Linked DNA regions of Homo sapiens: region 1 is linked to region 2. Evidence: fine-mapped expression QTL. A gene starts in region 2. The other region holds a variant in brackets. All regions are shown on one strand. Distances are between the middles of the regions. Region 1 has its middle 74 kb from the start of STOX2. Region 2 holds the start of STOX2 (storkhead box 2).

What was found. PIP is the estimated chance that this variant, and not a neighbour inherited with it, causes the effect. A credible set is the group of variants that fine-mapping cannot tell apart.
Region 1: its variant is the best candidate, but not a certain one, in a credible set for the expression of STOX2 in monocytes after R848 (Quach 2016, PIP 0.86).

Annotation. Positions count from the first base shown.
Region 1 is chr4:183,828,924-183,833,316 of GRCh38, reverse strand. It overlaps a transcript of STOX2 not described here. Among named protein-coding and RNA genes, the nearest start is that of STOX2, 74 kb to the left of the region's middle. The variant G/A (reference allele first, on the strand shown) is at 1,900.
Region 2 is chr4:183,903,313-183,907,630 of GRCh38, reverse strand. STOX2 (storkhead box 2) reads right to left here and starts at 2,324. Exons shown (of 4, transcript NM_020225.3): 1 at 675-2,324. The coding sequence starts at 840. RefSeq lists enhancers at 1,364-2,071, 2,072-2,781.

The sequences.
Region 1 (4,393 bases), 74 kb after region 2:
ATGCCAGACCTAAGCGTTCTGCTAAGTAACCACGAAGGGAATCCTGACAGGTCACACCATAATCATGGGGCAGGTTGCAAAGCACAAACGCTCCTACAAAATCAGGAAGAGTCTGGACTTGACTTCTTGCAAGCGGTTATTAGGCAATAAAAAAAGAACTGTCACTGAATTTAGAAAGACGATTAAGAACTGAGTGTATCAATGTTCAAACTCACTGAACCATGTCCATTTCACAGGGGAAATTTCAGGTAGACCATCGCCATGGATAATCCATATTTGGTAACAAATTAGCAAAATATTCTTAATAGCTGACTAATACTCCTATTGGAGATTGAAAAACATCAGCATGCTGTAACAGGTTTTGACGGAATCTGTAGTGTTTGGTCTGCAGAGGTGAAGTTAAAAGGAGACATCACTGTTCCTTAAATATACATGAAGGGATTGTGTATAAAGTTTACCTCATCTTTTTAATTGAGCCGAGAGTCAGAGGAAGAGCCTAACGACAGTAAGGGTAAGAGCCAGTTATAGGCTGGGTGTGGTGGCTCACGCCTCTAATCCCAGCACTTTGGGAGGCCAAGGCAGGCGGATCACTTGAGGTCAGGAGTTCAAGACCAGCCTGGCCAACATGGTAAAACCTGTCTCTACTAAAAATACAAAAATTAGCCGGGCATGGTGGCAGGCACCTGTAATCCCAGTTACTTGGGAGGCTGAGGCAGGAGAATCGCTTGAACCCAGGAGGCAGAGATTGCAGTGAGCCGAGATCATGCCACTGCATTCCAGCCTGGGTGACAGAGCAAGACTCCGTCTCAAAAAAAAAAAAAAAAAAAAAAGAGTCGGTTATAGGCTACTAAGAAGCTGCAGAATCTAGCTTTCTAGAGTTTTAAAAAACTGGATGAAGTATTACATTCCTTAGATAATTTCAAGAGTCTTCTCTAACAGAGATAAGCATACAACTAGGAGCCAAAATGGGGTTAGTAATATTTAGAGTCCCTGCTTTCAGAAACAAATAGAAATGAATGAGCTCCAGGGCCAGGTGTGGTGGCTCCTGCCTATAATCCCAGCACTTTGGAAGGCCATGGTGGGCGGACCACCTGAGATCAGGAGTTCGAGACCAGCCTGGCCAACATGGTGAAACCCTGTCTCTACCAAAAATACAAAAATTAGCCGGGCATGGTGACGGGCACTTGTAATCCCAGCTACTCAGGAGGCTGAGGCAGGAGAATCACTTGAACCTAGCAGGCAGAGGTTGCAGTGAGCCAAGATCACTCCATTGCACTCCAGCCTAGGCAACAAGAGTGAAACTCTGTCTCAAAAAAAAAAAAAAAAAGAAGAAGAAGAAGAAATGAATGAACTGCAGAATTCACCAGAAGAAGCTTCAGGGAGGGGCCGAGAAGGGGACTAAAGCCTGGAAACAGGAAAAATTGGGCAGAGCTGTCCCAGGAGAGAAAAGAGGAAGTACAAAGCCTCGGAAATGAGACCAGGGCGTGTTTACAGCCACCTAGACAGAAACTAAGGCAGATAAGCTTAACAAAATTTATTTATCTATGTATTTACTTTTAGTGTTTTTTGTCTATATCCGTGGGGTACAAGTGCATTTTGCTACCTGATCTATTGCTTCGTGGTGGTCAGGGCCCTCAGCGCATCCATCACTGACTAAATTTATTTTTAAGAATTATACAGCACAGCAGATTTTTTATAAACTAGAAGTTGATTAATTGTTTACTGTACCACAAAATTCTAATACCTAGCAAAATATTTCTAGACCATTCTTTTCGCAATTATTTAAGTCTGATATTCACCAAAAAAAAAAAAAATGTACATAGTTCTAAACTTTCCATCAGGGTTTTCTAATGTTCATGAACTAATGTTCATGGTCCCCACAATTATTTGTGTTTTCTG[G/A]TACTGCCTAACCATCTGTTTCCTGATTGGAGCTGCAATTTGGCAACGTTTATAACGTAAGATTCCAAGTTCAAGGCAAACTTGGGGGCGGAAATGAAGAAAGGCAAAAGAGCCAAGCTTCTTTCCTGCCACAATTTTCCTTACATGTGTGCAATTTCTGTGGGTGTGTTCTGTACAGGACAACCTTTTTAACCTACTGTATCCTGCCTTTCAAATCGTCTTCTCTCCTGTAGACCTTTAGCAATAAACAACTCTCACTGAAATCTTCCATCCCCCCACCATCCCCCCTCACGCCTCCACACCCACCAGGAAGGAGAAAAGCCAACACCCTCCAAGCCAGCTGCTCAGGCCCGGAGTTCGGTCCCATGTAGTGCTTGGCCATCTCCGCCGAGGACTAACCCAGAATCCCAGGATTCTTCTACCACCAGCCTAGGAAGGATCTAAACACCAAAGCCTGCAACTTTGAAACTGAAAACTGTTCAATCATATACAGCTAGCCAAAAAAAAAAAAAAAATTCTAAAAATGCAGACCTGCCTGTTACAACCTCTGAAAACGTTTTGCACAGCATTCTTCCCCAGTCTTCCCCTATTGGTGTGGATCAGGTGACCCTGAAACCGGAACAAGTGTCCTATTGTTGGAGGAGGGCCCTTAATGACTACTTTTCAGCTGACAGTGAAGTTCATGACTAATTTCTTTTCAATGAGCCATTGGCCTATGATGAAAGGTATGTTTTCATCCCAGCTAATTTCAACCAACAGATATACCCTATATCACCCTCAGATATACCCTCAGCTAACTGCCACACAAGGAGTGACTACTAGCCAGGCCAGACCAGCCCTGGGCACATCAAAAGGGCAGGGTCAAAGGTAAAGCCAGCCTGGGGTCATGGCTAAGGTCAAAGGATAAGAACCCTCATGACCATCTCTCCCAGCCCTGGCACAGAGGACTTCACTGGACTCCCTCCTTCCCACAGAAGGACACAGCTGTAGTTGCATTTTATCACCCAGTGGAATTCAGAAAACAAGATAACACCCATAGTAGCAAACTCTCAGTGCACCTAGAATGTAATTCAGTCGACTGAGAGTGTAAAAACCCCATGTGCTTGCACTTGGCCAATGAGGGGGAATTCTTTTAATTATAGTTAGAACAGTATGTTACTCCTAGCCCAATTTTCTACTGTGTGCAAGGAAAGCAGGTTAGCAGAAAAGCAAGTAACAACGCACCAGGTGACCCTAGATACCTTGTTGGGGGGGATGTGAAATTAGTTCTGCTCAGACACTGGAAATAGCCCTACCTCCCTGAGACACTGTGCTCAGGGCCACATAAAAATCCATTGACAGCCCAGAAATAGTCACAATCAGCATAACTTCAGCAACAATGCAGTAAAGATCTAAAGGATTCGCCGATTCTACCCCATCACTCATACCTGCAAGAAGAGGGAGCAGGCCCAGTAATGGCCATCTTCAGCATTCCATGAGGAAATGTCTCTGAAACACCCAGCACACACAGCAGATGCTCAGTAAGTGTTCACTTTTCTTCGTGTCTCTTTGGGAGTGTAAGTTCCTTGGCCAGGAGAGGAGAATTACTCTGTTTCATTTCCAACACATAACAGAAAATCTAATTATAAAGTTCATTACAATCAGGATCCATTAGGTGCATCTGGTTGCAAGTAACAGAAACCGCAAGTCGAGCTGGCTTAAAATTACAGGGAACGTATTGACTCACTATCTGTGAACTCCTGAGGTGGGGCTGGAATTGAAGGCCTTGGCCCATGGCTAAGACAATGTGACCAAGGGCTGATTTTCACAAGAAATTTAAAGTGTACTGTGTTACCTATGCTGGTGACTGACAGTTTAATACAAAGACATGAGGGAGACGTGCCACCAAATGCAAAGGGAATGAGGAGCATTAAATAATCTGGCGCATAGAAGTCTTCTAGTTATGTATAACAGTACCCTAGATTCTGGGGGTTGGAAAGGCCTGCAAGTGTGACAAAGACAAACAAATGACAAGGGACTAGAAGTTGCAACAAAAAGAGAAAGGAAACGGCTTTTTTCCACGTTCTGTCTTTTCTTTCTGCTACTACTGCAACTCACAATCCCACCAGTCTTAAAGAATGTTGAATGTAGAGATGAATGTTTTTAATTTTTCCAAAATAAGAATGTGTATGTTTCAAAGAATAGCAGATTAACTAAATGCCTCAAATATAATTTCTCTCATCAAAGAAAAAGATGATAGATTTTTAAAAACAAAAGACCACTTTCTTTGGATAGGAAAAGAGCAAAAGTTTATTTCTAAATTCTCTTGTTTCTTAATGCTAATTGGCAAAATATCTGTGGAGAAAATTAGTCAACTTTATAAATGTTGCCATAAAACAGCTGAAATCAGCAAATTGCTAATCTCCCGGTTGGCACCCAAGCCAAACTGCTTTCCTTCTTCTGCCTGTTACAACTTAAATCTACCTGACAAAACACATGTGTCTGCAGCACCAGG
Region 2 (4,318 bases):
ATTTACCGTTTTGTTTGTCCCTCCTGTCTGACATGCAAACACATGATACAGCCTCCATTCTTTCCATACAGCCTAATTCAAAGCAACATATGTTAAATCCACACAGAATCATGTGAGCATTCAATCCGCATCCACACCATTACCCCCACAGAACGCGTTCAGTAAGCTCCAACACAGTTCTCTGCGTGCAAATCAGACCAGCCTGGGATGTCTGCAGGACTCTCCCCTGACTCAGCCCATCCAGAGCTGCGCATGGAACCTGTTCCTTTTGGAGAACAGGGGGCTGCTGGAAATACCCACTCAGATAACCGGCCACAATGCAGCAGCCAGCAAGCCTGGCACTGCAGGCAACCCTGGGCGCAGGATCCTCCACAAAGCTCGAGGAGGCTGCAGCGCCGGGGCTTGCAGTCATTTATCTCCCTGCAGCCAAAACGCCCGGCTCGTCCCCCCTCCCTCGTTTTACCTAACTAATAGCTCTCCAACCCCATATTGAGAGGGCCTGCTGTGGATCTTGGGAGGTACAAAATGGTGGATGGGAGCTAATTTTTTCCTGCTTTCCCCATAACTTATCGCATCCATCACTGCCCGTCCTCTCCTCCAAGCACCCGGGCCGCGGCGTACCGAGCACGTCCCGCGGCCCCGGCCCGGGGGCAGAAACGCGGTCACCAACCAACCTGATGTCATGTAGCCCCGCGAAGCCTGGGGCGCGAAGGCCGCGGGGAAACGCTTGTGCAGGCGGTAGTCCTTCTCGCTGCGGGACCTCATGCGGTCCGAGGCCCGGTCCGAGAAATCCGAGCTAGGCCAGGCTCGCCGCAAGGTTGTGCTCCGGGTCTTCTTCATGGTGGGGAGGGCGACCTGCCGCCCCGATCCTCGGGGCCTCAGCGCCGGGGCGCAGCGCGCTCCTTCATCCGTCTACGGCGGGCACGACCCGGGCGGACTCTGCGCACATTTTCCCAGCCCCTCCTCGTCGGCGTCTACACCGCCAGCGGCGGGTCCGGCCCTCCCCACGCCCCCCCACACCCCCACGGCGAAGGCTCCGATTTTACACACGTCCCACAATGCATTACACTTCATTTGCAATCCGCCCGGCTTATAGCTTCCAGATTCCTGGGGGGAAAGGCACGTTAGGAGGCTCCCCGGCCGGGAGGAGGCGGGGAGGGGGCGGGCGGGGTGGGGGCGCCGAGACTTGCAGCGTGAAGGCAATGGGAGCGCAGACAATGGCCCGATTCAGCGCAGGAGTGCTTGGCCAACTGGGAGCCACGGCACAAAAGACCCAAACAAATGAGGCAGCCGAGGCCTCCGGGGCTGACCCGGGATCGGGCGTGCGGGAGGCCGGAGGGGCGGCGGCAGACCCTCCGCGCCGGGCAGCTCAGCGCGAGGCGTGGGGATGACAGTGTCCGAGTCGTGTCCCCGCGGGCCTATCAGCCGCACGGCCCGCAGTCCCCGGCGCTGGCTGGCTCTGCCTCCGCTGCAGTCCCCGGGAGACAGTCTTCATCACAGAGGCTCGAGCGGGGGGCGCGTGTGCACAGGATCCGAGCAGGCTCTGCAGACAGCAGCTGCGGCGGGCGGGCTCCTGCGGAATCCAGGAAGAGCCCGCGTCGTCCCCGCGACTGCAGCGCCTCGTCAATCTTCCCCTTGCCGAGGCTCCGGGCGCTGTGCGTGCGCGCGGGTGGATGGCTGGGTGGGTGCGCCGACACGCATGTGCCCCCTACACATGCATGCTCCTACTTACTGGCCGAGGCGGCGCCGGAGCCATGGCTGCCAAGGACGCCGAGCCTGCGATCGACCCCCGCGCGGCGGCAGCGCTGCTCCGGCGCGAGCGCGCGGAACGGCTATTGAAGGGCAGGAAGCAGGACAGCCGCCCAGTCTCATGCTAATCACCAGGCTGCCTTAAGTTAGAACGCGGTTCCCATCAGGCTTCTCATTTTCATGTAAAACACCCGGCGGCGGCGCGGGGACCTTGGCAGCTGCCCCAGCCTGGAGCCAGCGCTTGGATATTTACATATTTTTAGGATGGTCCCTCCCGCTCGGAGAGAGACAGCGAGCCAGCCTTCGTGGGAACGGGGAGATCTGCGGTGCGCTGCCTGGCCCACCTGCGCCAACCCCAAAGGAAGCTAAAGCCAGAGGGAGGGGAGGCCACGGCGAGCTCCCCCACAACCGCACACGCCGGGGCGCCGGGTCCACGCAGCCTGGAAGACGCAATGCAAGTGGCCTGCAGCGCTTCCTCTCTCCCTCTGGAGTCCCGGTGTAAGTCACCGCCAGCCCGCTACGCTGCATTCAGGTCCACAGCTCTTTAGATGGCACGGCTCTGCACAGCTGTTTCTGGTCCAACAACCAATCGCTAAAGGACAACAATGCGCGCGGCGCGCGAGGGGAGGAGGGGCCAATGCGCCGCCCGGGCCTGGGCGCTGGGCCCGGGACGCGGGCCTGGGACCCGGAGGTCACGCCGAGTTAAAGGCGCCCAGCCACGTTGCTGCTAACCCCGACCACGCTTTGCACTGCCGTTCATTCAAAAACGGTTATCTCCTCGATTTGGGTTTTCAAAAATGCTTTGGTACAGTAAACAACGACAAAAATAAGCCCGATTTCCTTTTTCAGCGCTGCATTTGACATGTTGGTGCATTTTTTCATCTGTGACAATGCAACGTTCAAAATCATATTTATGCTGTTGTTTCATATTCACAGGTGCCAAGATGCAGAGACAGGGATATTAAATCTTTATAGGGATATGCTTCTAACAGGCTGATATCGCAAAAACAAGCCAGTGGATTCTAGCTGGTTAGGATTCAGGAAGTTCTAACACAATCTGTGCTATTCCAAGGCTTGAATTATTTGAGGGGGGTAGCAACTATCTTGAAGAACCAGGCAGAGCAGGATGGCGTTAAGCCACAGGCATTATAAAATCTAGAATTAGAGCTCTCCTCATTCAGATCTCAAGACCGCCCTCTATAACCTGTGGCCACTGTACTACCTCTTGGGATACCCAGGGTAAATAAATAAATAATCACTAAGTAGCCTATGGAATTTATATTTACATAATCAAAATGTATTACTGTCAACCAATTCACTAATGTTCTGTGGTTTTTATTTTTAATTGGGAAAGGCACTTCTAGTTCAATGTCTTCTTTCCTGTAAGAGAACTGCTAAGAACAGAAAGATTACAGCTTTAGAAGTTATAGAAGGCACTTTTAGTTCAATGTCTTCTTTCCTGTAAGAGAACTGCTAAGAACAGAAAGATTACAGCTTTAGAAGTTATAGAAAGCTAGCTGTATAAAGCAGGGATCCCCAATTCCCAGGCCATGGACTGCTTGGATATTTACCTACCCCACAGATATTTACGGACCCCGTGCAGCTTCTAGTCCTCGGCCCATTAGCAACCAGGCAGCACAGCAGGAGGTGGGTGGTGAAGCTTCATCTGTATTTACAACAGCTCTCCATTGCTTACTGGCATTACCTCCTGAGTTCAGCCTCCTGTCAGATCAGTGGCTGCATTAGATTCTCACAGGAGCACGAACCCTATTGTGAACCATGCTTGGAGGGATCTGGGTTGCGTGCTCCTTATGAGAATCTAATGCCTGATGATCTATCACTGTCTCCCATCACCTCCAGATGGGACTCTCTAGTTGCAGGAAAACAAGCTCAGGGCTCCCACTGATTCCACATTATGGTGAGTGTATATTTATTTCATTATATATTACAATGTAATAATAAAAGAAATAAAGTGCACAGTAAATGTAATGCACTCAAATCATCCCAAAACCTTCTGCTCTCCAACCCTACCCCCACCCCAGTCCAAGGAACAACTGTCTTCCACGAAACTGGTCCCCAGTGTGAAAAAGGTTGGGGGCCGCTGGTGTAAAGGACCATAAGGTAATAACAAGTTGTATTAATGAATGTAGGAGAACTGACATTTAGATATCTCAATTCAACAATTACTCAGTACCTCCCAAGAGCCAAAGGTGGTTATATGAATGATTATAATAGCTATGACTTAAAGCTAATGGTGACTGCTGTGGCAACTGTGATAGTCATTCATTCAGCAAACAATGGCTGACTGTCTAGAATACGCAAGCCCTGGGATGGGTGCTGGGCAAACAGAACACCACACATGACCCTGCAGCAAACCGTCTAGTATGGAAGAGAAACAGTAGGCAAATAAATGCAGAAATTGTGCTAAGTTCTATGAAGAACAATAATCTCTCTAAGAAATGACAGTTGAGCTGAGACCTACAGCATGAGGAGCCACTCAAGCAAAGAGTGGGGGAGATGGTGTTACAGAAAGGGGGAACAGTCTGTGCAAAGGCCCTGGGGTAGAAGG